Homo sapiens: one gene and its partners. The protein of the gene in region 3 interacts with the protein of the main gene of each other region in a pairwise test. Each region holds a gene or a part of one and is shown on either strand. Other genes may lie near its edges. The genes, in order: ECH1, MAGEB6, DNM1L, SH3GL1, SIRT3, PINK1 and MAGEA3.

The links.
Region 1: the proteins of DNM1L (region 3) and ECH1 come close enough for resonance energy transfer, tested with the Homo sapiens proteins (one large-scale study listed by BioGRID).
Region 2: the proteins of DNM1L (region 3) and MAGEB6 interact in binary tests that used the Homo sapiens proteins (3 or more experiments, as listed by UniProt).
Region 4: the proteins of DNM1L (region 3) and SH3GL1 interact in a two-hybrid assay, tested with the Homo sapiens proteins (one study listed by BioGRID and IntAct).
Region 5: the proteins of DNM1L (region 3) and SIRT3 interact in a two-hybrid assay, tested with the Homo sapiens proteins (one large-scale study listed by IntAct).
Region 6: the proteins of DNM1L (region 3) and PINK1 come close enough for resonance energy transfer, tested with the Homo sapiens proteins (one study listed by BioGRID).
Region 7: the proteins of DNM1L (region 3) and MAGEA3 interact in a two-hybrid assay, tested with the Homo sapiens proteins (one study listed by BioGRID and IntAct).

Annotation. Positions count from the first base shown.
Region 1 is NC_000019.10:38,814,922-38,819,220, forward strand, and holds the end of ECH1 (delta(3,5)-Delta(2,4)-dienoyl-CoA isomerase, mitochondrial precursor), read right to left. Parts: intron 2,655-4,299; coding exon 2,530-2,654; intron 2,444-2,529; coding exon 2,395-2,443; intron 2,209-2,394; coding exon 2,144-2,208; intron 1,603-2,143; coding exon 1,532-1,602; intron 1,435-1,531; coding exon 1,363-1,434; intron 1,087-1,362; coding exon 936-1,086; intron 797-935; coding exon 692-796; 3' UTR 501-691; downstream 1-500. UniProt on the Homo sapiens protein: Isomerization of 3-trans,5-cis-dienoyl-CoA to 2-trans,4-trans-dienoyl-CoA.
Region 2 is NC_000023.11:26,190,915-26,195,796, forward strand, and holds MAGEB6 (melanoma-associated antigen B6), read left to right. Parts: upstream 1-1,525; 5' UTR 1,526-1,613; intron 1,614-2,871; 5' UTR 2,872-2,932; coding exon 2,933-4,156; 3' UTR 4,157-4,732; downstream 4,733-4,882.
Region 3 is NC_000012.12:32,716,755-32,721,116, reverse strand, and holds part of DNM1L (dynamin-1-like protein), read right to left. Parts: intron 2,475-4,362; coding exon 2,354-2,474; intron 454-2,353; coding exon 322-453; intron 1-321. UniProt on the Homo sapiens protein: Functions in mitochondrial and peroxisomal division.
Region 4 is NC_000019.10:4,359,418-4,362,957, forward strand, and holds the end of SH3GL1 (endophilin-A2), read right to left. Parts: intron 3,320-3,540; coding exon 3,195-3,319; intron 2,969-3,194; coding exon 2,912-2,968; intron 2,380-2,911; coding exon 2,183-2,379; 3' UTR 953-2,182; downstream 1-952. Other genes in the region: MPND (MPN domain-containing protein), read left to right, coding at 499-585. UniProt on the Homo sapiens protein: Implicated in endocytosis. May recruit other proteins to membranes with high curvature.
Region 5 is NC_000011.10:216,341-219,608, forward strand, and holds part of SIRT3 (NAD-dependent protein deacetylase sirtuin-3, mitochondrial), read right to left. Parts: intron 3,261-3,268; exon of another isoform or gene 2,702-3,260; coding exon 2,492-2,701; coding exon of another isoform or gene 2,438-2,491; intron 379-2,437; coding exon 358-378; 3' UTR 1-357.
Region 6 is NC_000001.11:20,632,208-20,636,257, reverse strand, and holds the start of PINK1 (serine/threonine-protein kinase PINK1, mitochondrial precursor), read right to left. Parts: upstream 2,801-4,050; 5' UTR 2,710-2,800; coding exon 2,323-2,709; intron 1-2,322. UniProt on the Homo sapiens protein: Serine/threonine-protein kinase which acts as a sensor of mitochondrial damage and protects against mitochondrial dysfunction during cellular stress.
Region 7 is NC_000023.11:152,697,149-152,701,976, reverse strand, and holds the start of MAGEA3 (melanoma-associated antigen 3), read right to left. Parts: upstream 3,184-4,828; 5' UTR 3,148-3,183; exon of another isoform or gene 2,903-3,147; intron 2,772-2,902; exon of another isoform or gene 2,713-2,771; intron 2,672-2,712; exon of another isoform or gene 2,189-2,671; intron 1,420-2,188; exon of another isoform or gene 1,356-1,419; 5' UTR 1,290-1,355; intron 1,210-1,289; 5' UTR 1,145-1,209; coding exon 200-1,144; 3' UTR 1-199. UniProt on the Homo sapiens protein: Activator of ubiquitin ligase activity of RING-type zinc finger-containing E3 ubiquitin-protein ligases that acts as a repressor of autophagy. May enhance ubiquitin ligase activity of TRIM28 and stimulate p53/TP53 ubiquitination by TRIM28.

The DNA of each region.
Region 1 (4,299 bases), on a different chromosome or scaffold from region 3:
ATTCTCCTGCCTCAGCCTCCCGAGTAGCTGGGACTAGAGGCACCTGCCACCACACCTAGCTAATTTTTGTATTTTTAGTAGAGACTGGGTTTCAACATGTTGACTAGGCTGGTTGCAAACTCCTGAGCTCAGGCAATCCACCTGCGTCAGCCTCCAAAAGTGCTGGGATTACAGGTGTGAGACGCCAGCATCAGATCCCATGTGCTGTGCAGTGAGAGGTGCCAGGCAGGGCACGAACGCCACCCTCAACCCCAGGGCAGGCAGGGAGACCAGGAAGCCTTGCAACCCAGAGGGACCCCAGCGACTTTTGCTCACTCCCTCCGCCCCGGAATTCCTTGTGCCCCTCGCCTGCCCGCTGCCAGTCTGAATGGCCATCACCTCCATGCCACCCATTCCCATGCATCCAACCTCTAGCCCCAGCCTTCAGGACTGCAGTCTCTGGAGCCCCTAGGTGCATCCCAGCCCCTCCCACCTCTCCTCTATCCAAGAAGGGCACCAGGTTCTTTACTTTGCTTTATTGTTTGTGGGGTGAAGATAAGGCCTTGGGCTTGAGAAACTCATTGTCATAAAGTTATAAACTGGGAAACTGGGTCAGAAGGCATAGAAACAACTGTCATCGCCCATCCTCCCTTTCTGTGGATGAGGCGGGACAAGGCCGGCCCCCTGGCTGGGGCCTGGGACGCGAGGGCTCTCAGAGCTTGGAGAAGGTGACGGTTTTCAGTTCCTTGTTCTCAGTCGTGGCCTGGACCGACTTCACGAGGTCTTGGGTCTGCAGCATGCTCATGTTCCAGGACGCCTGGTACCGAGGGTGTTGAGAGAGAACGAGGAGAGAGATTAGCAGGGGCCAATCAGGATAAAGCATGAGAGCACCCTGCACCCTGGTTGGTCGCCTGGGGTTAGAGGAGGGCTGTGATTGGTCGGAGCGTGCACCTTACCACGTAGTTGAGGCTCTCGGCCACCGAATGGTCGCGGGAATACAGCAGGTTGACCTTGGTGCTCTGCACCGCCACGGGGCTCTTGCTGGAAATCTCGGCCGCCAGCGCTAAGGCAGCATCCAGCATGACCTCTTTGTCTGGGAACACCCGGCTGCAGTGAAAGAGATCAGGGACCGGGTGGGCTGGGAAGGGCTCTCTCCTCCAGCCTCCCGCAGATGAAGAAGTGGCCACTCACAGAGGAAGGCCCAAGACCCCAGAGAAACAGCCCAATCAGAGCAGGGGGCTGACCCCACAATAAAGAAATGAGCTCACCAAGAAAGGATGCCACTAGGAATTCTAGAGCGAGGAGACAAGGGGACCCGGAGAGGCCTCCAACCCTCCAGGCCTGGCTGCCCCCAGCACTGAGCTACCACGGCCATGGCCCTACCTGACCAGCCCACTGCCCAGGGCCTCGTCAGCCATCATCTTGCGGGCGGTGAAGGCCAGCTCGTTGACCAGGCTGCAAAGGCAAGCGTGCATCAGGAGGCGGCTGCCACCCCGGGGCTGGGAGATGCTCTGGGGTCTCCTGCCCACACCCCCACACCCCCTGCACCCACCTCTGGTTCCCGATGACCTTGGGCAGGCGCTGCAGTGTTCCTACATCGGCAGCCAAACCCACGTCCACCTCCTGGGGGAGGAATCGGGTCAGTGTTTGGTTTCTGCCCAATACTGTGCCCCTCGCAATGTCAACGTCCATGAAATTTCATGTCTACTGGAGAGTCCCGCCCCACCTTCACCCCAGTGACTTCCTCCAAAGTCCCATTCCATTGCCCAGGCAGCTTCTTGACTCAGGCAAGTTCCTTCAACCTAGAATAGAGCCCACCTTCCCACTCATGCACCCTCCCATTCCCTCAGGGCAGCTCCATCTGTGAGAGAGGAACCCTCCTCACCCTACCTGAGACCCCTTTACTGCATCCCCCGGCTCCATCCTGCCTCCCACCCTCACCAGTATGGCCCCAGGAGCAATCTCTGCCTCTGACACCTGCCAGCCTCAACCCCACCTCATACCTTACCCACTCACAACTTCACCTCTTGACTTCCTCTATGGGCAAGTCTTACTTTGTCGGGTTCAACTCCGACTCTTCCATGAAGCCCTCGAGGCTCACTCCAGGCCCCCCAACCTCACCCCACTGCCCAGCTCTAAGCAGGAGCTCGGGAGGATGACTCACCTTCACCTGGAAGAAAGCATCCTGGGCACAGTACCGGATGTCACAGGCGGTGACAAGGTCCACACCTAGGAGGTAGAGGCCAGGGATGCTGAATGACCACCAGAACCAACCCTGGCTCCCGGGAGGTGGGGCTGCCTCTTGGGACACAGTCTGGCCCATGACAGAGCTGAGGCTGGATGCCAGTGGCCGCGGCATCGGAGCAGCAGCCCCACCTGGGGAGCACCCGAGCAGGAGGATAGCCGCAGACTCACCTCCGCCAATGCAGCCCCCATGGACGGCAGCAATCACGGGCTTGGGGCACTGAGAGGGAACAGGAAGAGTGGGGTCAGGGCTGGCCCAGGGGAGGCGCGTATGGAGAAAGATCCCCTCCAGACCCCTAGAGTCACCCTCTCGATGACGTTGAAGGTCTCCTGGTATCGAGTGATGATGTCACGGAGGTACCAGCTGATCCGGGCCACATCATCTCCTTTGGGCTGCAGGATGTCCGAAGCCATGTCCATCAGGTCAATACCTGGTGAGAAGGCATGATGGAGCTCATCCAGGCTCCCAGGCCCCACCCATTGACTCAACCAGGGATCAGAACCCAGGCACAGCAGGTTCGAACCCCCAAACCACCAAGGCGGAAAAAAAACAACTCACACAGGACTTGGTGAGGGATTGATTGCATGTTGGGTGGGAAGGAAATAAAAGCTAATATTTGTGGAGTCATTACTCACAGAATCCTCACAGCAACCGTACCAGCTAGGTCCTATTACTATTTGTGTTACCAATGGGTAAACTAAGGCACAGAGAGGTTAAGCACTTGCCCAAGGGGGTCACACTGGCTGGTGAGTAGTGAGTAATGAACTATTTAAATTAACTCATTAATGTTTTTAGAGACAGGGTCTCACTCTGTTATACCAGCTAGAGTGCAGTGGCACGATCATGGCTCACTGCAGCCTCGAACTCCCAGGTTCAAGCAATCCTCCCACCTCAGCCTCCTGAGTGGCTGGGACTGTGCCGAGGCTGCTCTTGAACTCCTGGGCTCAAGCGATCCTCCCACCTTGGCATCCCAAAGCACTGGGATTACACGTGTGAGCCACCATGCCGCATCAGAAGTAGGATTTTAAAATCTGGAACCATGCAGCTGGCTCCAGAGGCCATGCTTTTCCCCAAGATGCCAGACAGCCTGGGACTCAAGGTCTGCAGCGTGAGCAATGCAGTCAATGGTGGTGATGTTTCCTGAGATGAGAAACATCTCACGATGCAGCAATTTCTGTGGCTCCAACTTCAAGATGATCCTGAATCTGACCTTTCCTGCATCAGTTGTTCTCCATGAGCCCACCCTGCTCTCCCTGTTTCCACCTGTGTCCCCAGTCTATTCCCTACAGGCAGCCAGGGGAAGCCAGTGGACACCTTCTTGGGTCAGATCCTCTTTTTTTTTATTTTATTTTTTTTATTTCAGACAGAGTCTCGCTCTTGTCGCCCAGGCTGGAGTGCAGTGGCAGGATCTCGGCTCAATGCAACCTCCGCCTCCCGGTTCAAGTGATTCTCCTACCTCAGCCTCCCAAGTAGCTGGGATTACAGGCGCCCACCACCATGCCCGGCTAATTTTTGTATTTTTAGTAGAGACGGGGTTTTGCCATGTTGGCCAGGCTAGTCTCAAACTCCTGACCTTGTGATCCACCCACCTCGGCCTCCCAAAGTGCTGGGATTACAGGCGTGAGCCACCGTGCCCGGCCCAGACCCTCTTTTTCCCACCTGTGGCTCTTAGAACAAAATGGAACGTCCTTGTCATGACTACCCTGCATGAACACTGTTCCCAACCTGTTACTTTGGGCACACTGGCCTCCAACTCTGTGTGTGTGTGTGTGTGTGTGTGTGTGTGTGCACTGTTCCCAACCTGTTACTTTGGGCACACTGGTCTCCAACTCTGTGTGTGTGTGTGTGTGTGTGTGTGTGTGTGCGGGCACGTGCATTTGAGCCCAGGAGTTGGAGGCTGCGGTCAGCTATGATCGCACCACTGCACTCCAGCCTGGGCGACAGAGCAAGACCCTGGCTCAAAAATAAAAAATAAAAAGAAAAGAAAATGGCAGGACAGAGAGGTGAAAAGACAAGTGGAAATAGGATCCAGATCACTGCCTGAGGGCTGTGCAGTGGTACAGAATCTTCTCATT
Region 2 (4,882 bases), on a different chromosome or scaffold from region 3:
AGAAAACCAAATAGAAATGTACATGTTCATTAAGGAGACAGCTATAAAAATTTACTGAAAGACTTAGGAAAAATAAATCTCCAATAAAGCAGTGTACTATGTTTATTTACTGTGGAGGAGATATTGTAAAGTTATTGATTCTCCTTAAATTTTTTACAGATTCATTGCCTTAGCCATAGCTGTGAAGATGACAACCAAACCCGGGTGGTTCTTTCCCATGACCAAACTCAACCATAGAAAAGTTAAAGGAAGAATTTTTTTTTAAAAAAAAAGCAGTATTAACAACAGCAAAACAACAAAAATGCGAACCTTGAGAGATGGTCAGTTTGTATTGAACAAGAATGGGTGTGTGGGCAGGTAGGGGCATGAGCTGAAGTAGAGACAGGTCTGTGGCCTACAACAGACGCAGATAACGGAATTGGCTAGAGGAAAAGCTTTAAAACTTTGGTCTTTGCTTCTTTCACTGTGCCATTGGACAATGCATTTTTTTTTCTGCTTCACTAAAGGAAATTCAGTCAGAAACTTGGACCCTATGTGCCAGTTCCATGGGGTAATATTGCCACAGCAAAAACATCTGGGTAGGCTGAAGAAGTATGAATCCAGACACTGTGCTAATAACTACCTGAAACTTCTTTAGTGGAAGTGGACTGGCCTTTAAATTCGTATTATTTTAATATAATATAAAGAATGGACTAAATTAGGATAGCAAATATTGCAGTGAGTCACACAAGATAATGGTAGAAATTCATTCATGAAGGTGTTGAATACAGACACTGATGTCAGCCAAGAGAGAAGTCCCAGACATAGCTATCAGGCTAAGAAGTCTTCTCACTTTCTCCTTATGAATTTTACAGGATCTAGTCAGAGGAAGGGGATGAATTTACATCAGAAAATGGAGAAAACTGAGACCCTGCCAGCAGTCAATGTGAGGACCCTGAGTGAGGACTGAGGGGCTCCACATATCAGAAGAGACAAGAGTGCCCCCCAAATCTCCCTTCATTCCCCGATCTTGCATCACAACTTAATAGCAGCAGCCAGGTTTAGGAGGCCCCAGGCAGTAGTGGCCAGGTGAGGTGTAACTGAATTGCACATGAGGAGTCTCAGGAAGTTGAAGTCTAGTCTGAGAGGGTGTCCTCAAGTCAGTAGAGGGGACATGGCAAGAATGAAGCGACGACACTGAGTGAGGGCTGAGGGCAAAGTCCATTCCAAAAAGGGGGTCTCACAGAGCTCCACCCCTACTGTCAGTCTTGGAAGGTCCCGGCATGGCTCCCGAGCTCAGGCTGCACCTTACTTCCAACTCTGGACTCTCAGGGAATGAGAGCCTCTATCTCCGGTTGACTGATTCAGCTCAACAGATAGAGAAGTCCAAGGGTCCGCGAAGAGCCCCTGAAAGAACTTTACGTGAGTTCCCTGGAATCTGCTGCACCCACAGAACACAAGGGGGAGTAACAGAGCCCTGCAGCTACTGTTACGCAGGGAGCGCCAGGTGGGCGTGGCCGGAAGTGGTTCCTCTTGACTTCCACCTAATAAAGGGGTCTGAGCCGGTCGCCTGAGCCTGAAAAGTGCTGTCACGTCAGCGGAAGGAGGCGTCCCAGATCTTCTCAGCTGTCTTGGTGGGTATCCTGACCTAGAACGGGGGGCATTCCCCGACAACTTCAACCCCCTTCCCCCGAAGAAAGGCGGCTCCACAGAGCCCTGCCCCAACCTGCCCCGACCTGGTCCCTGAGGAGTCCCCAAACATGGCTGTTAGGCCCAAAGTCCATTCATTTTTTTCCGTCGTGTTGAAGAACATGAAGGCCTCGGTCCAAGGCTTGTGGACCCAGGTCAGTAGAGGGAGAAATCTCAGGCCCTACATAGTTAAGAGGACCCTCCTTAGAATTGAGGGAGGGGATTCCATGTCCCGTAACGGGTTGCACCGAACTCTGCCCTTGACGTTAGCCTGGGGGTCCGGGCAGGTCTCTAGAGACTGAGGTGCATTCTCACTTTGTCCCTGTGAGAGTCAGAGAGGTAGGCCCCTGGTTGTAAGGAGATGGCAGCAGGTCAGTGAGGGTGATTTCCAGGTTGTGGGAAGAGTCAGGGTGAGGAGTCTAATTACTGTGAGGAGCATTCTCACTATAACTGGAAGAGCACTCAAATGCCTCCGCTGTTGTCAGCCCTAGGTGGTCTGGGTGTCCCCGGAATGAAGTGTTGGGCAGAAGTGCTTCCTTATTTCCTCCGGGTTAAAATTCCTACTGTCAATTTCAGAGTGGCACAAGGAAATGGGCCTCTGGGTCTTGTCAACAATTTTTTTTTTATTATACTTTAAGTTTTAGGGTACATGTGCACAATGTGCAGGTTTGTTACATATGTATACATGTGCCATGCTGGTGTGCTGCACCCATTAACTCGTCATTTAGCACTAGGTATATCTCCTAATGCTATCCCTCCCCCCTCCCCCCACCCCACAACAGTCCTCGGAGTGTGATGTTCCCCTTCCTGTGTCCATGTGTTCTCACTGTTAACTTCCCACCTATGAGTGAGAACATGCGGTGTTTGGTTTTTTGTCCTTGCGATAGTTTGCTGAGAATGATGGTTTCCAGTTTTAATGATGATCCTGAATGTAAACAGAGAGGATCCAACCCCTGAACAGAGGGGCCCCCACTGCCAGCCCCTGCTGTCACCTCAGTAAGCCCCAAAATGGGCTGTCATGCTATAGTCTAATACTCTAACTTCCTCCTGAGTTTGAAGGAGACAAACTGACCAGGAGAAAAGGAGTCCTGTGGGTTCCTAGAGCAGCTGTTCTGCGGAAACCTGCAGAAGGGGCCCTAGTTAAAGCCAAGATGGTCGCTCTCTGCTGAAGATATTGACGTGACGTCACTCTCTCCCATCCAGGTGCCAGCCTTCCTAGTCTTCCTACCCACACTCCTACCTGCTGTCACAGGCCACAGCCATCATGCCTCGGGGTCACAAGAGTAAGCTCCGTACCTGTGAGAAACGCCAAGAGACCAATGGTCAGCCACAGGGTCTCACGGGTCCCCAGGCCACTGCAGAGAAGCAGGAAGAGTCCCACTCTTCCTCATCCTCTTCTCGCGCTTGTCTGGGTGATTGTCGTAGGTCTTCTGATGCCTCCATTCCTCAGGAGTCTCAGGGAGTGTCACCCACTGGGTCTCCTGATGCAGTTGTTTCATATTCAAAATCCGATGTGGCTGCCAACGGCCAAGATGAGAAAAGTCCAAGCACCTCCCGTGATGCCTCCGTTCCTCAGGAGTCTCAGGGAGCTTCACCCACTGGCTCTCCTGATGCAGGTGTTTCAGGCTCAAAATATGATGTGGCTGCCAACGGCCAAGATGAGAAAAGTCCAAGCACTTCCCATGATGTCTCCGTTCCTCAGGAGTCTCAGGGAGCTTCACCCACTGGCTCGCCTGATGCAGGTGTTTCAGGCTCAAAATATGATGTGGCTGCCGAGGGTGAAGATGAGGAAAGTGTAAGCGCCTCACAGAAAGCCATCATTTTTAAGCGCTTAAGCAAAGATGCTGTAAAGAAGAAGGCGTGCACGTTGGCGCAATTCCTGCAGAAGAAGTTTGAGAAGAAAGAGTCCATTTTGAAGGCAGACATGCTGAAGTGTGTCCGCAGAGAGTACAAGCCCTACTTCCCTCAGATCCTCAACAGAACCTCCCAACATTTGGTGGTGGCCTTTGGCGTTGAATTGAAAGAAATGGATTCCAGCGGCGAGTCCTACACCCTTGTCAGCAAGCTAGGCCTCCCCAGTGAAGGAATTCTGAGTGGTGATAATGCGCTGCCGAAGTCGGGTCTCCTGATGTCGCTCCTGGTTGTGATCTTCATGAACGGCAACTGTGCCACTGAAGAGGAGGTCTGGGAGTTCCTGGGTCTGTTGGGGATATATGATGGGATCCTGCATTCAATCTATGGGGATGCTCGGAAGATCATTACTGAAGATTTGGTGCAAGATAAGTACGTGGTTTACCGGCAGGTGTGCAACAGTGATCCTCCATGCTATGAGTTCCTGTGGGGTCCACGAGCCTATGCTGAAACCACCAAGATGAGAGTCCTGCGTGTTTTGGCCGACAGCAGTAACACCAGTCCCGGTTTATACCCACATCTGTATGAAGACGCTTTGATAGATGAGGTAGAGAGAGCATTGAGACTGAGAGCTTAAGGCAGGGCTGGCACTATTTCCTTGGCCAGGGTACCTTATGGGGCCATATCCTACAGATCCTCCCATTTCTAGGGAGGTCTGAAGTAGAATTTTCACTTTATGTTAGAAGAGAGTAGTGAGCTTTCTAAGTAGTGCAGTATAGTAGAGGCTGGAGGGAACAAGATATGTATCTTTCTTTTGTTACACATGAGTAACTTGCAGATTTATGTTTTATCTCTGTCAGTTATCAACATTGTTCCTGTTAAGTGAAGGTTTATTTTGCTTCAGATTATACAATTATCAATAACATAGCTCTCACATTCATGGCTGTTTAACCAATCTGAAAGTTACGGTTTGGGAATTAATAAAACAAAGTCATACAACACATTTTCTTTGTAATTGAGAACTAGATAACATGGTAACAGAGAATTGATTTTCATATGAATCTTAACTCCACAGTAAAATAGTTGACATCATAATATGAAGAGAAAGAAAAGGAAAAACAGAAATGTAAAAGTTGTTTAATTCTTGGTTTGCCTAATTCGTTTTCCTATTTCTTTTCATACAAATAAAGGATACCTGGATTTATTTAGGTTATTAAGACTGCCGTTAGTTTGTTTTGTTCTAGTGCACTTCATATTCCATGTTATCTACTGCATCAAAAAACCCCTCTGATTGGAGGGTGGTATTTTCTGGGTTTAAAATAATCACATGAAATGCAGTGATCAATATAAGCCAGAATGAGTT
Region 3 (4,362 bases):
CAAATTTTAATCAGTTCCTGAAATGCAAAGTGGAAATGAAGTCATCTCTAGTTCTAGCCACAAAACTAAATTAACTGTCAAAATTTTCGTAATTAAAACATTTTAAAATCACTTGTACATTCATTCTAGACTACGTGATGATGTAATGTCAACCACCCCAATAAAAACAGAGACATCTACTCTTCAGGAACCTACTATATAAGAAACCATAAGTGAAGCTGTTAGGAACAGTATGAAAATGTAAGGAACTGAAAATGAACCCTCTCAGACACCAATTGGTAAAAACAAACACATCTCATTTCCAAAAGGTAAAAAAATTACCTGTTTAGAGTCCTAGCAAGATACTTTGTTCCATTTCTATTGGCCAGAGATGGATATTTCTTTTGAAGAAAAGCATACTCATCACGGATTGAATCAGTTACACTCTTCTTGTTGTTAATATCTAGCTGGCTCCTGAGGTTGAAAAAATAACGAAACTATTCAGCTTAACTGTTGTCCTCTTCCTACCTTAGATGATGACAGCACCAGGCATTGTTCTCTAATACCTGACAGGGACTGTTTTATTTAATTCTCACAATAATTTTATGTGGCAGGTATTATTACCCCATTGTATAGCAAGGAACTGAGGCTCACAAAAACTAACTTACCCCAGGTCACACACTAACTGGCATAGCCAAGACTTGAACTAAGTGAATTGTAAGTAACTAGTGCCTAAATAGAGTAGGCCTCATTATTACCATTAACTATAGACAAAAACAATAAGTAACAGGTATAGACAGGTATAAAAATATAAGAGTATCTTAGTCAACTGTATATTTTATCCATGGACAGGGAACTAATTTCTCCCAAAAATAATTAAGTTAACTTGAAGAACAATCATCTACAAACAACGAACAGTGTTAGGCCACCTCCTTACCTGAAAAAGGAGACAGCTGGAATTGGGAGTGGGGATGGGAGAATGACAGTGGGGATGGGAGAATGACAGTAGGGTTGGAATGGAAGGACATTAAAATAGAAGCAGACAACTGGAATGGATCTTATGTATCAGGCAGTAAAAACATTTTCATTTTCTAAAGGCTTGAGACCCAAAGACATTAGGTGTCATTTAAACCTACGTTGTATCTAGTTTATGTAAGAACTAGGACTATAACTCAGATTTCATGATAATTTCAGTGTTTCCTACCATATGAAGGCTTTGGACTAAAAGAGATATTCATCCGAATCCAGCTCTTTCACTACCCACGTGACTTTTGGTTAAATGTATAACCTGAGGTTTCTGATTATAAAATAGACATCAACACCTACCTCAGGGGATGCTGTGAGGATTCCAAGAGATACCATTTGCAAATTGCTCACAGTAGAGTGTCTAAAACGTAATTAGACACTCAATAATAATTTCCTTTTCCCGATTTTTAATACCAACTATTTATAATTAGGATACCTTTAATAAAATTTCTCCAAGTCACATCCTGGCAATTACACAGAATCACTAATGCTAGGGATTAAACCAATCTATTAAAATCTTGTCACCTTTAATTAGACACTCAATACTAGTTTCCTTTTCCCAGTTTTTAATACCAACTATTTATAAATTAGGATACCTTTAATACAATTTCTCCAAGTCACATCCTGGCAATTACACAGAAGCATCACTAATGCCAGGGATTAAAACCAATCTATTAAAATCCTGCCACCTTAAACTCTTTCTCGATTGGGTGCACATTAGATAATTTTTCCCTTACCCAGTACCTCCTCATACATAGCTTAACATGATAGGCAAGAATTCTTAAAGCCTGGCTATTACAACATTTCTTCCATTTTGTGGTATTGCTTACTTTAGAAACATTTTCCAGTAAAAATGTCTATGGGGCAGGCACAGTGGCTCATGCCTGTAATCCCAGCACCTGGGAAACCAAGGTTGGAGGATTGCTTGAGCCCAGGAAGTCGAGACAAGCCTGGGCAACATGGCAAGACCTTGTCACTACAAAAAAATTTAAAATTAGCCAGGTGTGGTGATACACACCTATAGTCTCAGCTACTTGAAAGGCTGAAGTGAAAGGATCACTTGAGCCCAGAGGTTGATGCTACAATGAGCCACAATCACGCCACTGCATTCCAGCCTAGGCAACAGAGAGAGACCCTATTTCAAAAAAAAAAAAAAATTCTCTCTCTTTTCTCCCTTTAGGGCAACGGATTCTTTAGCAATACCAAGATCATAATAAAAGGGAGAAAAAATATAGTACAGCATCACATTTCAAACAGATTTTAGAAATTCAGACTTGCTCTGAAGTGAGAATGCTTATCCCATTCTAAGAATGCTTATCCCAATTCTTATCCCATTCTAACTGCTAACCTGTTAACTACTCCAATTATTCCAAGTTTGACTGGAATAACCCTTCCCATCAATACATCCATGGCATCAGTACCCGCATCCATGAGATCAAGTTTAGTGATTACAGCTAGGGTTCTGCGACCTGGTAAATGCAAAAAGAAAAAAGGGCAAAGAAAAGAAAGAAAATGATCCATTAAATACAACTATTTAGTGTTAATAAAGGAAAACCCTCATCTACAATCCCACTTAGTATTACCTCTGTCATCATTTTGGTAATGCCTTACTTACCAGTGCTTTTTTAAAAATAATGTTAAACATTGTGTATAATTTTTTAAAACATTTTTGCCGGGCACGGTGGCTCACACCTGTAATTCTAGCAGTTTGGAAGGCCAAGGCGGGTGGATCACCTGAGATCAGGAGTTTGAGACCAGCCTGACTAACATGGTAAAACCCCATCTCTACTAAAAATACAAAAATTAGCCAGGCACAGTGGCAGACGCCTGTAATCCCAGCTGCTCGGGAGGCTGAAGCAGGAGAATTGCTTGAACCCGAGAGGCAGAGGTTGCAGTGAGCTGAGATCGTGCCATTGCACTTCGGCCTGGGTGACAGAGCAGGACTCCATCTAAAATATATATATATACTATACATATAAAATATATATACTATATTATATATAAAATATATATAGTATATATATAAAATATGTATAGTATATATATAAAATATGTATAGTATATATAGTATGTATAGTATATATTTATAATATATATACTATATATATTATATATACTATACATACTATATATACTATATATAATATATATACTATATATACTATATTTTATATATATATAAAATATATACTATATTTTATATATATACTATATATAGTATATATAAATATATATAGTATATACTATATATAGTATATTTATAAAATATATATAGTATATACTATATATATTTTATAGTATATATATTTCAGTTACAAATATATATATCTACCTAGGTATATATATTTTTTATATATATATCTACCTAGGTATATGTATTTTTTATATATATATCTACCTAGGTATATGTATTTTTTATATATATATCTACCTAGGTATATGTATTTTTTATATATATATCTACCTAGGTATATGTATTTTTTATATATATATCTACCTAGGTATATGTATTTTTTATATATATATCTACCTAGGTATATATATTTGTAACTGAAAAATGCCATAGGTAAAATTGTACACTATGCAGAGCAGGACTCCGTCTAAAATATATATATATACTATATATATATAATATATATACTATATATTTAAAATATATATAGTATATATTTAAAATATATATAGTATATATTTAAAATATATATTATATATTATATATACTATATATTATATATAGTATATATATTATATATACTATATATAATATATAGTATATATAAAATATATAGTGTATATATAATATATAGTATATATAAAATATATAGTGTATATATAATATATAGTATATATATACTATATATACTATATATAAAATATATATAATATATACTATATATTTTATAGTATATATAAATATATATAGTATATACTATATATATTTTATAGTATATATATTTCAGTTACAAATATATATACATAGGTATATATATAAAATATATATAAATATATAAAATATATATATAAAATATATATATATACCTATGTATATATATTTGTAACTGAAAAATACCATAGGTAAAATTGTACACTATGCAGAGCAGTTGGAACTCTCACACGTTGCTGGTGGGAGTGGTGTAGTCATTTTGGGAAACAGTCTGGCAGTTTCTTATAAAGTTAAATTAGCAGTCCCATTCCTAGGTGTTTAACCATGTTAAGTGAGAACCAGTGTTCATATAAAAAACTATATGCAAATATCTACAGCAGCTTTATTCATAATTTTCAAAAACTAGAAACAACTCACATATTTCTCAGATGGGTAGTGAAATACCTATGGTATTTTCAGTTACTATATATATA
Region 4 (3,540 bases), on a different chromosome or scaffold from region 3:
CAGGCCAGATTTGATTGGACTGTGGAGCTTTAAGCTCCGGCAGTGCCGGATGAGGTCCTGGCAGCGGGTTTTGGGAGTGGCTCCCCTGCAGAGGGCCCAGGGTCCTGGCCACCCCTGAGTGTCTTAGGGTAGTGGTTCCTGGTTTCCCTCCACCTGGCATAGAAAGGGACTCATTCTGCTCAGCTCTCGGCTAGCTGTGGAGGCTGTGGTGTCCCCATGGGTGTCTGGAACCAGGCAGGGAGGGGCTGAAGTGGGGGCAGGATCGGGAGTGTGCACATAAGCCCCACCCCTCCACACAGCACCGCTGCCCCTGGGAGCCAGGCCCTCGGTTACATACTGCCCCACTGGGTAAGCAGCAGGCTGTGCTGCGGGACCCCAGCCCTGTGCCTCGGTCTCAGGGGGGCTCAGTCAGGATGCTGGACTTGCACGGTGGACTGTGAGGCGCAGGGCTGGCTAGGACCCCCGGGCACAGCCTGAGGCCCAGCCCCCTCGTTTCAGATCTCCTTGGCCAGCAGGACGCCCAAGGACCAGAGCCTGTGTCACGTCCTGGAACAGGTGTGCGGCGTCCTCAAGCAGGGGAGCTGAGCCTTCCAGGGCAGGGTGGGCTCCAGTTGTCTTGAGGGTCCGGATGGGCTCAGGTAATAAAGAAACGGAAGCAGCAGCCAGCCACGCTGGTCTCCCCAAGGCTGGGGTGAGGGTGGCTGGGTGCCCAGGCTGGTACCATCACCCCAGCTTCCTCACTTCCAGGGCAGGGCATTAACTTCCAGGATACCCCTCAGCCCCTGCACCTGGGAACTGGCACAAAAGCCTCAGGGCCAGTCCCACCCACCTTGGGCTCAGGAGCACCTGGGGTGCTGGAGGGACCTCCTGGGGTGTGTGTGGCTTTGGAGCCGGCCCCTCAGGAAGGCGGTGGGTGGCAGGCCCACCCCTGCACCAAGACGAGGCAAGGGGCTGTAGAAAGAGACATTTAATACTTCTGTTTACAAAATTCAGGCGTACATTTCAGTTTGCCCTGGACCGTGCCCAAAGCTGTGTGCTCATCTCTGCGCCCCTCATGTACTTCTGACGAGGGGGGTGCAGGGCAGGGCAGAGCAGAGCCTGGGGTCCGGAGGCTTCACTGGACCACAGGGGGAGGGGAATGTGAATGTGGCCTGGCCCAGAGAACTCCCCATTTCATCGATTTTGCATTGGGCGATAGAGGAAGCAGATGTCGGGGCTGCCTGCCTTGGTCTAGAGGAGATGGCTGGGGCCACTTCCCACAGGGTGAAGTGGCAGCGGCTCAGCAAGGGGAGCCTGGCCACCAGGGGCTGGGACATGCGCTCACTGGAACCTTTGTGCTTGGCCCTCGGCAGCGCGGCTGTGGTCCCGTGTGAGGTGTGCTGGGGTGGGTGTGGGTGGCTGGTGGTGGCAGCTTGTGCCAGAGTGACACAGGCCTCCCTGGGTTGGGATGGGGGCAGTTAAAAAGCTGAAAAGGTACTTGGCTTTCTGAGGGCGGGGCTTGGGAGGCAGGGCCCTGCAGGAGACCATGTTCTCTGTCCTCAGGCAGATCCCAGCTGGCCTCTGTCCCCGGGCTGCAAGCTGACAGCAGGCCCGGGAGGCGGTGAGGCCCTCTGCCCTGGCCTTGAGGAGAAGGAGTGCGTGTGTGAGGCGGGGGTGCATTGGCCCTGGAGTAGGGCCAGGGCCCATCACCAGCACCAGGCTGGGAGGGATTTAAAACCAGGGTCCTATCTCTGAGCCACCCCATGGGGACCCTCGATCCCATCCTGTTAAGGCTGCGGGACTCGAGGGTAGGCAGTGGGCCGGGCCCCCGTCGGGTCAGGACGGAGGTGGGGGCTGCCCCAGAGGAACATTAGTGTTTCTAAGAGCACCTTAGTGTTGCCCCGCCTCGGCCAGCTGGGCGAGAAGTTGGGGAGCGGGGGAGGAGGCTGGCGCCATGGAGTGGGGAAGGGAGCCGTCACCGTTGGGAGTCAGCGCTAGTGTAAACAGGCATCCCCACCCACCCAGATAAGCCCCCCCACCCAAGTGTGGGGTCCTGCTCAGGGAGTACCTCAAGGGCCGGGGCCCAGGTGGCGCCGGCAGGCTCAGACACCGCCCTGGCAGCAGGGGCTCCGTGGAATGCAGGAGACCCAGCAGGGGGTGCCGGCCAGTGTGGACGGAGGGGCGGGGCGGGGACACGGGTGAGTCACTGCGGCAGGGGCACAAGCACCTCCACGTAGCTGAGCGGGAAGAAGCCCGACTGGCCGTCCAGCATGCCCTCGTACCAGTTCTCATCGATCTGGTTGGTCAGCGTGATGACGTCGCCCTCATGGAAGCCCAGCTCCCCGTCGTTCTCGGGCTCGAAGTCGTACAGCGCCTTGCAGCTCGGCTGGTCCAGGGGCGCTGGGGGCGGGAGCGGGCTGTGGGGCTGGGGCTGCTACGCCTCACCCCGCCCAGTCTGGGGTCTCAGACCTGCTGTGACCTGGAGCGTGTGGGTGGGCATGGGCCTCCCCTCTGCCCTGCCTGGGCCACCCCCTGCCCCTGCCACTTCTGGGGTCCGGCCTCTACTGCCACCCAGGAGGGAGGATGGGAGAAGCTTGGTTTAAGTGGTCACCAAAGCTACTCCTGGGAAGTGCTGGGGACACCCGGTGCTGCTGCGGTGACAGGGAGTGACCAGATGCCCTCAAGCCCTTGTAGCCACCACACAGCCTAGAGCTAGCTGGGCTAGTGCCCTTGGCAATCCCTCATTCACACTGTGAGGCTGAGACCCAGAGGGGTGGCATCTTGCAGGCTGTGGGGCCTGTGCCCCCTACTGCTGCACGAGCCTGGCCCCTCCCTGCTTGAGATGGGCAGAGAACAGGGCGGGAGGAGAAACACCCTCCCCGAATGGCCGAGAAGGCAGCACTGAGGTCGAGGCGGGCCTGGGAACACTCACGCATGCTCCGGCTAGGGGTCCGGATGGGCTTGTCGGAAGATCGGAAAGACGATGAAGCTAAACACAAGCAAAACGAGGAGGCTGTGGGCTCAAAACGGTCGGGCAGGGCCCCTTCTGCAGAAGGCTGGGGCCAGCCCTTCCCGTCTGCCTTGGCGGTCCAGATGGAGCACGGCTGAGAGCTGCACCCAGGAGTCTGGCGCTCAGAGACCCAGGACAGGGCCAGCCCTTGGCCACTCCCACCCGCTGGCATTTGCCTCCGCAAGAGGGCTCCATGCCCCATTACCTGCGATCTTGGGGGCTGTGGTGCAGGGGAAGCCCCCGTTGGACTGCTCAGGCTCTCCAAGGTCAAAGGGCTCCCGGGGCTTGGGCTTATACTCCCGCTTAGGGCGTGAGGAAGCTTCCCGCATCCTGTGAAGGGAGAGGCGTGAGTGGACCGAGCCCGTGTCACGGCCGAGGCAGCCCCACTCTTGTATTTATGCTGCTGCCTAATGACCTGGCCTGGGACTGCAGGAAGAGGCCGTCAGTGGGGTTGTGACACATGGACCCTGGGACACAGCTAGACTGGGATGTCTACCCAGAGGGCCTCCAGCCTGGACCCCCACCTTGGAGGCATCCCAGAGATTGCCAAG
Region 5 (3,268 bases), on a different chromosome or scaffold from region 3:
AGGCACAGAAAGCAGACTCGGTCTGGGATTCCAGTTGGTCTGATTCAGTTCAAGAGGGTCACAGTCAGAAGAAAGCTTTTTCCATTAGGAGCTTCAGCAGAGTGAAGAGTTCAACACAGCAAACAGGCAGGCAGCTCCTTTGTATATGTGACGGGGTGGCCCTGACTGTAAACACAGCCCTACCAGTCACTGCAGCTCATGGCCTGAGAAGACATTCCAGTGGCAGCCTCGGGTGTCCACTCAGTTCACATATTCTGGTTTCACCTGCCCAAGCTGTCTTCAGGCATGAGGTCTTGTCAGAATTGGGATGTGGATGTCTCCTATGTTACCATTTATTGTGTGGGGGCAGCCATCATCCTATTTGTCTGGTCCATCAAGCTGGAATACAGAAGACAGAGGGTATCAGCTATCTGTTTACACACCCAGGCAGGCCAGCAGATCTCTGTTCAAACAGCTCTAGCTGCAGACATGCAAAATATTTCACAAAACAAGCTGCTTTCTGCAAATACTGCTGCTGCTGTGCTGGGCTAAGAGGATCCCAGCAGGCCTGGGCAGAACAGGGTGGCTAAATGGAGAGCCTCATTCTATGGGTCTTAAAGTACCCAAATCAATATGTACTGATGCTCATGTGCTTAAAAGCATTCACTATTTGGAAAAGTAACCCCTTGGATAGTAATGCTGTAAAAAACAGAAAATGAAATCATAACCCATTTTACATACATTTCTCTGAAACTAGATTATACAGTTCAAATCCTATTAAGCCACTTCCAAAACTCCACAGGAGCTACCAGAGTTACAATCTGCTTTTCTATGAAAACAGGAAGTTGGGCCGGGCCTGCTGGCTCATGCCTATAATCCCAGCACTTTGGGAGGCTGAGGCAGGTGGATCACCCGAGGTCAGGAGTTTGAGACCAGCCTGACTAACATGATGAAATCCCATCTCTAATAAAAGTACAGAAATTAGCCAGGCATGGTGGCACATGCCTGTAATCCCAGCTGCTCAGGAGGCTGAGGCAGGAGAATCACTTGAACCCAGGAGGCAGGGCTGCAGTGAGCCAAAATCGTGCCATTGCACTCCAGCTTGGGCAACAAGAGTGAAACTCCATTACAAAAAAAAGAAAATATGAAGTTGGAGCAGGAAAAGGATCCCTCAAAAAAGCCTGCTGGGCTGATCTAAGATCTCCGCTGCCTTGTGAGCTGGCCAGGAGGCACTCGCCTCTCAGCGTTTAAGCCTCATTGTTAGCTGGGTTCCCTGCCTCCATAATGAAGTGACCATGATTGGTAAAAAATCAGCCTGCAACCAGAGGTTGGAGGTCTTGGACTGGTGGAGGTGAGGAGAGTGCTGACCCCATGGCCCTGAGCCATGAGGCAGCCACAGCTGTGGACAAGGAAAAAGGATCAGGATTTCCTAAGACATCTGCCTTGGAAGGCAAGAGGAGCATCAACTGTGATATATTGTAGTTGATATGGTTTGGCTGTGTCCCCACCCAAATCTCACCTTGAATTGTAATCATCCCCATGTGTCAAGGGTGGGGCCAAGTGGAAGTAACTGAATCATGGGGGCGGGTCTTTCCCACACTCTTCTTCTGATAGTGAATAAGTCTCACAAGATCTGATAGTTTTATAAAGGGCAGTTCCCCCGCACACGTCCTCTTGCCTGCCACCTTGTAAGACAGTACTTTGCTCCTGCTTTGCCTTCCACTATGATTGTGAGGCCCCCACAGCCATATGGAACTGTGAGTCCATTAAACCTCTTTCCTTTATAAATTACCCAGTCTCAGGTATGCCTTTATGAGCAGCCAGAGAACAGACTAATACACTGGTGAAATCCCCTTTGGACAGTGTTACACCTGCCTGTAATCATGACACTGGACTTTAAATGCTTAATGCTACCACCTCCCATTGAAAACCCTTAATATCAAGGCTACACATGCTACATGATTCTTATGGGAAACTGCATTTTCTGTAACTTCACTTGTTTATAGGCGGTTTGAAATCTCTTAGAAAGCATCAAGGCTCTTTGGCTTTCCTCAGCGGATTATAATTGATCAATGGCTCTCATACCAATTACTTCCGAAAAGCATCACTCATGTAGCCTTCATCCCACATAGATGCAGAGAACTTTAGCTTCTCAAAGTTCTTTAACCCGTATCATCTTAGAATCACATACCAGGCCTTAGAGGGACACTGTTGGCTGCTTTATTTTAGGGAGTGAAGGTAACGCCTATAGTCTGTTAAGAATACAGACTCATCAGCCCTGAGTGTCTGGACCGTGTCCCTGCTTGGCCTGTTAGCATCTGTTTCCTCATCTCTAAATGGAGGTATTGAAAGTAACACCCAGTCAGGTCCAGGTAGTGCCTGGTGCAGGATTCACAGCATCATCAGCTATTACTGTTACTGTGTTAACCAACGGGGCTCCATATCAGGTGGACCATACCCTAGAGCAGTGAGAAGGGCAGCCCCTTGGATGGTCCTCCTCAGCAGTCTGTACCTTCCCAGTTTCCCGCTGCACAAGGTCCCGCATCTCTTCTGTCCAGCCCAGAAGCTCCACTAGGCTTTCCACGCCGTGAACCACGTCCCCCAGCTGGGCCACGTCCCTGCTGCGAGGATGCCAAGCCAAGGGCCCCACCAAGTCCCGGTTGATGAGCAGTCGGGGAACTGAGCTCCGCACGGCCTCGGTCAAGCTGGCAAAAGGCTCCACCTGAAAAATGGGCCAAACGTGAGGGGCACAGTGTCCACTTTACAAGCTCCTCAGGATGTTTCATGCCACAGCCACCGAGGCCTTGGAGGAGCAGCAGATTGGCAGTCAGAGCCTGCGATATAGGGAAAACCCACCACCAATCTCATTTCTTCAGCTGAGCTCCTGCCGCTTGGCCTCCGTGACGGTTTTCTCCCCTCCGCCTCTCTCTCTCTCTCCCACTTCTTGCTGTTTCCACACATCCTTGCTTTTCCCCACCTCCGTTCCAAGGCTCATCAGGGATCCAACCTTCCTGCCTCCTCTTTGTGAGCACGTTCTGTTCTCCCTGTCCTCCCCACCTCGCTGTCTCCCAGCATGACGCAGAGGGACAACAGCACAGACTCGTCCATCTCCTCTGGCTAGCCCTGCTTGCTCTGACAGCCACCACCAGCATCGGGCACCCAGACGAGCTGGTGCCCCCGAGCAGGAGTTACTGTTACGTCTCTCCATGGTCTTCCCCACCCAGCCTCTAGAGAGGCCTAGCTCGGTGCCATCAGGCTTCTTCATACAGCTCTCAAAGCTTCTTTTAAG
Region 6 (4,050 bases), on a different chromosome or scaffold from region 3:
ACATATTATAGTATACACAACATATATACACATATACATATATATACACATTATATATATATTTTTATAATATAAATTTTTAGAGCTTGCTACTAGCACACTCCTGCTAGTTGCCCAGGATGGGGTGCAGTGTTGCAACTACAGCTCACTGCAGCCTCAAACTCCTGGGCTCAAGCAATCCACCCACCTCAGCCTCCTAAGTAGCTGGGACTATCGGCATGTGCCACCATGCCTAGCTAACTTTTTAATATTTTGTGGGAACAAGGTCTCACTATGTTGTCCCAGCTGGTCTTCAACTCCTGGGCTCAAGAGATTCTCTCACCTTGGCCTCCCAAAGCACCAGGATTATAGGCATGAGTCACCATGCCTGGCTTCAGAATTTTTTATTTTTTTATTTTTTATTTTTTTTGAGACGGAGTCTCACTCTGTCCTCTAGGCTGGAGTGCAGTGGCGCGATCTTGGCTCACTGCAAGCCCTGCCTCCCGGGTTCACGCCATTCTCCTGCCTCAGCCTCCCGAGTAGCTGGGACTACAGGCGCCTGCCACCATGCCTGGCTAATTTTTTTGTATTTTTAGTAGAGGCGGGGTTTCACCATGTTAGCCAGGATGGTCTCGATCTCCTGACCTCATGATCCGCCCGCCTTGGCCTCCCAAAGTGCTGAGATTACAGGCATGAGCCACCCCGCCCGGCCCAGAATTTTTTAAATGTGAAATTAATTCCAGCAAAAGTAGCCAGTGAAAACAACTTTTTCTCCCCCCAGTCAGAGTCTTGCTCTGTCACCCAGGCTGGAGTGCAGTGGCGTGATCTCAGCTCACTGCAACCTCCGCCTCCCGGGTTCAAGGAATTCTCCTGCCTCAGTCTCCCAAGTAGCTGGGATTACAGGCGCCCACCACTGCGCCCGGGTAATTTTTGTATTTTTAGTAGAGACAGGGTTCCACCATGTTGGCCAGGCTGGTCTCAAACTCCTGACCTCGTGATCCGCCCGCCTCAGCCTCCCAAAGTGCTGGGATTACAGGCATGAGCCACAGTGCCTGACCAAAAAAAATTTTTTTAATGTGAAATTAATTGATAACTAATAACATTTTCAGGCATAGGAGGGTGAAGTGTGCGAAGAAGGTGTGTGTGAATGGTAAGTTTAGGAGGATCAATCTCCTCAGTTAAAAAAGCCTCTTTAGTTTTAAGCAGGATTAGTCAAATTTCCCATCCTTAGCTTCTGCCAGTTAAGCTGTGGCAAAAGACAAGGTCAGGGGCTGGGGACTAGGCCAGATGTCACCTGTCACCCCAAACTGGCCAGAGCTCAAACATGAGACAGTGGTGATGAGCAATAAGAACTGGGATGGAAACCAGGAAACCCAGGAGCCACTGCTTGGCCCTAACAGCTGTGTCCTTGGGCAAGTCACTCCCTCTTCCACCACCTCAGCCCTAACCTGTAAAATGCAGGGGCTATGCTAATTTAGTGAGTGGTTCTACACCCCCAGGAAGAAGAGTGACCTCCCTGGAAGAAGATGGAATTCTGCCAGCGGCCAGGCTTCAAACCTGAACTGCACCGCTGGCTCCTCCCTGGCTCTCCAGCCTGCCCGCCTACTCTGCGGCTTTTAAGACTTTGCCAATCCCCATAGGGAGCCAGGTCCTCAAAATAAACCTGCCTCTATATAGACACATCCTATTGATTCCATTTGGAGAACCCTAATACAGACTTTGGTTGGGCAAAAAGAGAAGTCTTGTGCTATTTTAAGCATTAAAAAACCCTAAGAACCCTTGTGTATCCAGTCAGCAGGGATAACTCTACACAGGTAACTAAAATGTTAGGACTGTTTTTCTCGCCGTTCATAGTTTTTACTGCGGTTTCAGCTCTGTCACTACTAATCCTTTGGTTAAACGGCGGAGGCAGCCTGGCTCAGTGGTTAAGGGCACTGCATTTTATTAGCTGTGTGACTTCGAGCAAGTCCCTTCACCTGAGGACTTTCCTTCTCCATAAATTAGGGACGGCAACTACCTCAAAGGGATAGGAATGTTATGATTTAGTTGTCCGTACATTTTAGAAAATTTACACAAAGCCTTTTGCTGTGCTGCGACAGGAGCTGTAATCGGCAACATGTCTTCATTTGAGGAAGGGAAACATTAAAACAAATGGGAGGTGCTGGCTTTATTTATAGCAGCCGATCAGTAATGGTGAAATAGATGAGCTTTAAGGACCCTCGCCTCGGCCCTCGATCTGCTCAGAGCCCCGCCTCCACACCTAGCCCCGCCCCCACCCAGCTGAGGACCCGCCCCCGCGCTTAGCTCCGTCCTCCGCTCGGCTTAGGACCCGGCCCCGCTCACCTGGATCTCCTGACAGGCCGAGACCGCCCGCCGGCTCTCCGCCTGTTTTTCCTCGATGAGGCCCAGCCCTAGCCCGAAGGCCAGAAAGACTGCCCGGCCGCAAGGGCCCGCGCAGCCCCAGGCCCGCACCACGAACTGCCGCTGCAACCGCGCCGCCAGCCCGGCCACCGACTGGCGGAAGAAGCGGAGACGGTTAGGGAGCCCGAGCCCGACCCTGCGAGGCTCCGCGCCCGGTCCTGCGGCCCAGCCTGGACGCTCCCCGCGGACACAGCCCGCCGCCGGGCCCGGCCGCCCCAAGCCGTAGGCCCGGCCGGGCTTGCCCGTGAAGCGCAGCAGCAGCGCTCGACCCAGCTGCAGGCCGCGGCCCAGCGCCTGTCGCACCGCCATGGTGGCGCCGCGGCCCGGTGCCCCCGCAGCCGCCGCTGCCGCCACCACCGGCGTCCCCCGCCGGTCACAACAAACTTGGGGCGGTGCCTCTGCGCAGGCGCAGGCGCTGGTGGGCGGGGCCGGCCCCCGCGGCAGTTCCCCGACTCGGCGCGTGGGGGCGCTATGCTGGTACTGGCGCCTCTAGCAGTGACTTTCCCTTTGCACTTTGGACCCACGTGGAGGGCTTGCCGGTTCAGGCAGGTCCTGAATGTGAACATCACTGGTCCTGGGCAAAATCGAGAAGTCGAGAAGGGAAACTGATATTTTTTGCCAACCATGGTGCCAGACCCTTTACGTCTTTTAATTTATTTAACAGCTCCACCAACAAGATAAAAATGCCGTTTTTATAGATAAGAAAACCGAGGCATAGTAAGGGGCAGCATTCGAGGTCTTGTGAAGGTACCTAGCAGAGCTGAGCTACAGTTCACATTGTCCTAACTGTTGAATGCTTGCCCTCCTCAATGCCGTTAGGCTGCTGTATGTGTCCACAGTCTCAGGGGTTTTGAAGACCCCAAGACAAATCTCACCCAAAAGACACAATTTATGAATGAGTGTGCTGAGGTCCCAAGATAGCAGCTTGCCCAAAGCCACACCGTTTGTTTAATGGCATAGGCCTGCTCACCACAGAACACACACACGCACGACACGCACATTACTGAAACAGTTTGCTGTCTCCTGGCCAGGGGTCCACCCCATAGCCAAGTAAGCCCAGGGGACAGAACTCTTCAGACAAAAAATCCCTTCTTCAGCAGCAGCTCCTATCTACATGACCTTTGACTTCATATTTAAGGAGAAAGGGATTTATGAACAGAAGCCATAGTCTCTGGCTTCAGCGGCAGGGAGACAAGATGGTGGATCCCCATGCCATTACCCCCAAGACCCAGGGCCTATATGCTATAGGAAAGGAATGTGACGGACATTTGAAGTCAGTCCCCCAGGGAAAGGCAAGAATGCTGTGTGAATCTGCCTAAGGGCAGGATTTATGGTAAGTACATACTTTTACACAAGGAACAATAGATAAACTGGAAATCTTAGAGGCCTTCCCTAAAAGCTGGTTAATCAGAAGTCAACTTGGTTGGCCGGGTGTGGTAGCTCACAGCCTGTAATCCCAGCATTTTGGGAGACTGAGGCAGGTGGATCACTTGAGTCCGGAAGTTCATGACCAGCCTGGCCAACAAAACACCATCTCTACTAAAAATACAAAAACTAGCTGGGCGTGGTGGCACACGCCTGTAATCCCAGCTACTCAGGTGGCTAAGGCAGGAGAATCGCTTGAACCCAGGAGGTGGAAGTTGTAGTGAG
Region 7 (4,828 bases), on a different chromosome or scaffold from region 3:
TCCAACAGGAAACAAAGAATAATCTCAAAGTCATCCAACAGAACAGAAACCCACTACTAAGAATGCTGACTGCTCGCTTCAAAGAGTGAAGAATGGGCCTCACGTCACAGGAGGCAGTGGAAACTAAGGGATGCGGCCCCGGAAGGTGCACTGGCCCAGACCCCCTCCCACTGGCCCTGGCTGCAACTCGTGCTCAGACTCACTCTTCCCCCTCTCTCAAAACCCACTCATGCAGGGGTGGGTAGGAAATGTGAGGTCCTCCACTGATCTTTACCATATGGTGCAGGACTTTCACATAGCTGGTTTCAACGAGGGCCCTTGGACCCCACAGGAATTCATAACATGCAGGATCACTGCCGGGGACCTGCCGGTACTCCAGGTAGTTTTCCTGCACGAAATGTTGGGTGAGCAGCTTCTTGGGATCCCCCAAGATACTGTCTTCCCTCCCCTCAAACACCTCTAACACACTCAGCTCCTCCCAGATTTTCTCCTCAGGGGCACAGTCGCCCTCTCTTGCGATTATGGCCAGGACGATTATCAGGAGGCCTGCCTTGGGCATGATCTGATTGTCACCCAGCAGGCCATCGTAGGAGAGGCCCAGGCAGGTGGCAAAGATGTACAAGTGGCCGATGGGGTCCACTTCCATCAGCTCGATGCCAAAGACCAGCTGCAAGGAACTGGAAGCTTTGCTGAAGATCACAGGAAAGAAATACTGCCAATTTCCGACGACACTCCCCAGCATTTCTGCCTTTGTGACCGGCTCCCTGGCTCGATACTTGAGGAGCAGAAAATGAACCAACTCGGCCACCTTCCTACTGAGTGCTGCTTGGAACTCGGACTCCAGGTCAGGGAAGGTGCTTGGCCCCTCCTCTTCTTGGTTGCTGGAGTCCTCATAGGATTGGCTCCAGAGAGGGTAGTTCATGGTAGTGGGGAGGCTGGAGGCTCCCTGAGGACTCTGGGGAGGATCTGGTGACTCGGCAGCAGGCACCTCCCCCAGGGTGACTTCAACTAGAGTAGAAGAGGAGGAGGCAGCCTCCTGCTCCTCAGTAGCAGGAGCCTGCGCACCCACCAGGCCCAGGGCCTCTCCTCGGGCCTCAAGGCCTTCTTCAGGCTTGCAGTGCTGACTCCTCTGCTCAAGAGGCATGATGACTCTGGTCAGGGCAACAGGCGGGAGTGTGGGCAGGAGCTGGGCAATGGAGACCCACTGGCCTGGGGAGAGAGGGAGCATGTGAGAGACCTCAGCTGAGTACTGAATGGAACCTTGGAGGCTCTAACAAAGGCTTACTTACAGATCTTCTCCTTCAGTGCTCCTCCGGGGGCCTCTGGTCCTCCAGGTCAGCCTGTCCCCTCAGAACCTGAAGGAGGAAGTGAGAGGGCACCTCAGGGTACATCCGGCCAGCGCATGCTGAGGCTGCAGGACTGAAAGTATTGAGGGTGAGGCCAGGCGCTCTGGAGTCCATGTGTTCTGGGGCAGGTGGGGCCCTTGGTTTGAATCCAAGGCAAACCTTCACCGTTGGCACTATCTGAGCCCCCTCTACTCTGTGACCTGAGGACACTGCCTCAGACCAAGTCCTCACTGCCTTGTTCCTGGAGCTCCTGATTCCTGGGAGAGGAATCCACGGGCCCCCAATGTGCAGACAGCAAACGCAGCCACGGATTCCCAGAACTGTCAGGAGGGTTGGCCAGACTCTGTGAGGTCCCCACTCTACTGGGGTGGAGGATCCCCTCTGTGCTCACTCAGGGCCCTCACCTTTCTCCTTATAGGGCCTAATCCCTCCCTTCTGCTGGCCTGAGAATCTCTCATGTCAAGAACTCACATACCTGATATGGTACAGAAAAACATGAGGGGACCCACATCTGGCCATACATTCCCAGGTCCTCCCGGAAAGGACAACGAGAGATGTCCAAATTTATTGAAGTCCATGTACCCTGGGTGAGGAGACTGCTTGGTCCTCACCTCCACTCCTAGTAGGGTCTGAGAGCCTCCCTCTACTGCCCTGAGTGCAGCCCCCTCAGACCAAGGCTTCCCCTTCCCTGACATCAGTGATCCTAGGATAATGGAGGGACCTCAGCTGACAGCCCTGCCCAGGCTCTCTGAGGTAACAGCAGGAGCAGGGCAGATTTTTATGGGGCCCCCAGTCCGCATTCTGTCCCAGGGGTACCCTCAATCCTCCCTCAGTCTCTTCACCTGGATGCTTGGCAGATCCTAGGACCACTGCATCTGTCCACCACATAGGGGCCCCTTGGGGGTACACCTTGGGCCCTGCAGATCCTGGGATTCCTCCCTCTGCTGACCTGAAGTCCCACTCTTCAGACCACAGCCCTCAACTCTCTGGTCACCCTGAAGGCGCAATGAGCACAGAGCACATTTGGCCACTGTGCCCAGCATCCCCCAGCCCAAGGTTGCCACTGATCTGGACTCCAAGGTCCCCTCAGTCCTCCCTCTTCTTCCTCCCCATGACTCCTCGCAGGGCTGGGCCCCAACCCCCTGCTGAAGTGGGTCTGCATCCCTAGGATTCCCGTAGCCGAATGAAAAGGTGCCTCGGTTTGAGACAGGGGTACAGTGGGCCCCCTGTCCTGGCATGCTGGGTCCCCTCAGGACTCCACTGTCTTCCAGGAGGGCCTGGGCCCTTTCGCTGCCTCCCAACGGCCATACTCGCGATACCGAACCCCTTCCCTCCCTTAGCCGTAGATGTGAACCTCAGGACTCACGTGCCTGGCCGCCATTCCCGGAGCTTCCGTGACTTGATACCAGGGGCAAAGCCCGGATTCTGCCAGGATAGGGGTGGGGGTGGGGATGGGAATGGGGAATGGGGGATGGGGGTGGGGTTGGTGTTGGGGGACGGGAATGGTGGTGAGGGTGGTGGTTAGGCTGCCCTCAGTTCCCTCTCGGGGTCCTGACCTTGATTCCTGCCACAGCGTGGGCCCTGACCTCTTCTAACCAGCCCTGCCCTGGCCACATTAAGCTCTGTCCCCAGAGTTCCCCGTGGCTAAAGCGGCGGGGGTCGGCGGGGTGAGGTAGTGGCGACCCAGCCTGGAAGTCTTCCCCTGCGGGGTGGCCCAGGCCCGGCAGCAGAGGCAGCACTGGATTATTTGAGGCCCTCTGTCTGAGGTGAGGCCCGCCTCAGTCCTCCCTCAGCGTCTTACCTTGCCTCCTCACCGAGCCTGGGCCGGCTTCCCTCCGCCGACGTCAGGCCGTCGCTCGTTGCTCAGGGCGAGAATCTCGCGGTCTTCTGACCTCCAATGCGCAAGTCAGTGGCGTCACATCCTGGCAACGGTACTACCCTGGGTTCCGGGCAGGGGTGGAACTGGATTCTGCCTGGATGGGGATCGGATGGGGGTGGAGGTAAGCATGAAGATGGTGATGGGGCAAGGGGTAAGGATTGGGACGGGGGTCCTGAGGCTGTAGATCCTGGTGGGGTCGGGGGAGTTGGGGGTGGGTGGGCGGGGCCTTCGGTCATCCCTCAGGGTCCTGAAGTTGATGCCTGGCTGAGCCTGGACCGCCATCCTCTGCAGATTGCTTCTGCTCCCCTCAGACCAAGTCTCTGACTCTGAGTCCCCCTGAAGTGGCATTGGGGGAAGGGGTGTGGTCTGGGTGACATCACTGCCTGCGTTTACCAGGGCTGACAAGAGGGGCTGAGCTGGATTCTGTGGTCCCTCTATGGTGTGTGGGGTGGGGGGGCGGTGTGGACCCTCAGTCCTCACTCAGGAGGGTCGTCTTCGTCACCTCTGGCTGTTGGATGAAGTGATGGGCAGGAGATGCTCTGTTTCTGTCACCTGTGAGCATTTGCACAGCTGCACCCCTTGTAGAGAATGCCTGCGGGTCCCAGGCCAGGTGCTCCCTGCAGGGCGGGGCGGCAGCTCCCGCGGTTGTAGTGACCTCCTATTTCAGTCTTTGTGTTCTGTTGAAAGAATTTTTTTTTTTTAAAAATGTAATTCCTCTGCCACTATGGTGGTTTCAGGTTGTTATTAGCAGAACTCTGGAGTCATACTGCCTTAACCAACCAAATTTTCCTGGTGTCCTGCTATTACCTAGGGCTCTTGGCATCGTGTTTTCAGAGGCTGCCTCAGATTGTGCAAAGAAGTGAAGTGGAAAATTTCAAACTTTTATTCTACCCATTCTGTCATCTACCGTGTAGGCCGGCTACAAACCTCCCCAACATCCCTGCTGCTAACCCCCTCCAACCAACACTGCAAGTGTCAAACACAAGTACCAGCTCAACACAGCCTTGAGTCTCACCCTGGGCTTTCCCTGTTTTGTTGCGTAGATTTTGTTGCTGATACTGGTTTTTTATTTACTGTTTCCATTCTGTAATTTTCCAGGTTTGATTTGGGAAGCAGAGCACAGCAGCCCAAATTTGTTGTAATGGCGGCGGCTACAGGTAAGGCACTAAATTGTAAATAATTTAAGCTGAGTTTACATTTTTACAGTGTTGTGCTCCCCATGAATGAATATGTTATACTCCTCTATGTATTTCAAGCTTTTTTTTACCTGAATATGTCAGTATACTTCGACAGTTGTCTCTATAAAGACCTTATACATTTTTATTAGACTTCTTTTCAGGCAATTCATGAATTTTGTTGCTATTGCAAATGGCATATTGTCTATTAATTGTTGTAGTTAGTTATTGCTTTCGTGAGGTGAAGATTTTGATTTTGCTGTAGTAATCTGTTGCACTCCTCGTTCTGAAGGCCGATGCACTTGAATATTCCACATACCTTTTCCTTTGAATTTTCAAGATCGATAATGGTATTATCACTAAACATTACATATTCTTCCAGTATTCATACCACTTACTCATTTTGGTACTTATAGCTCTTTGTGTCT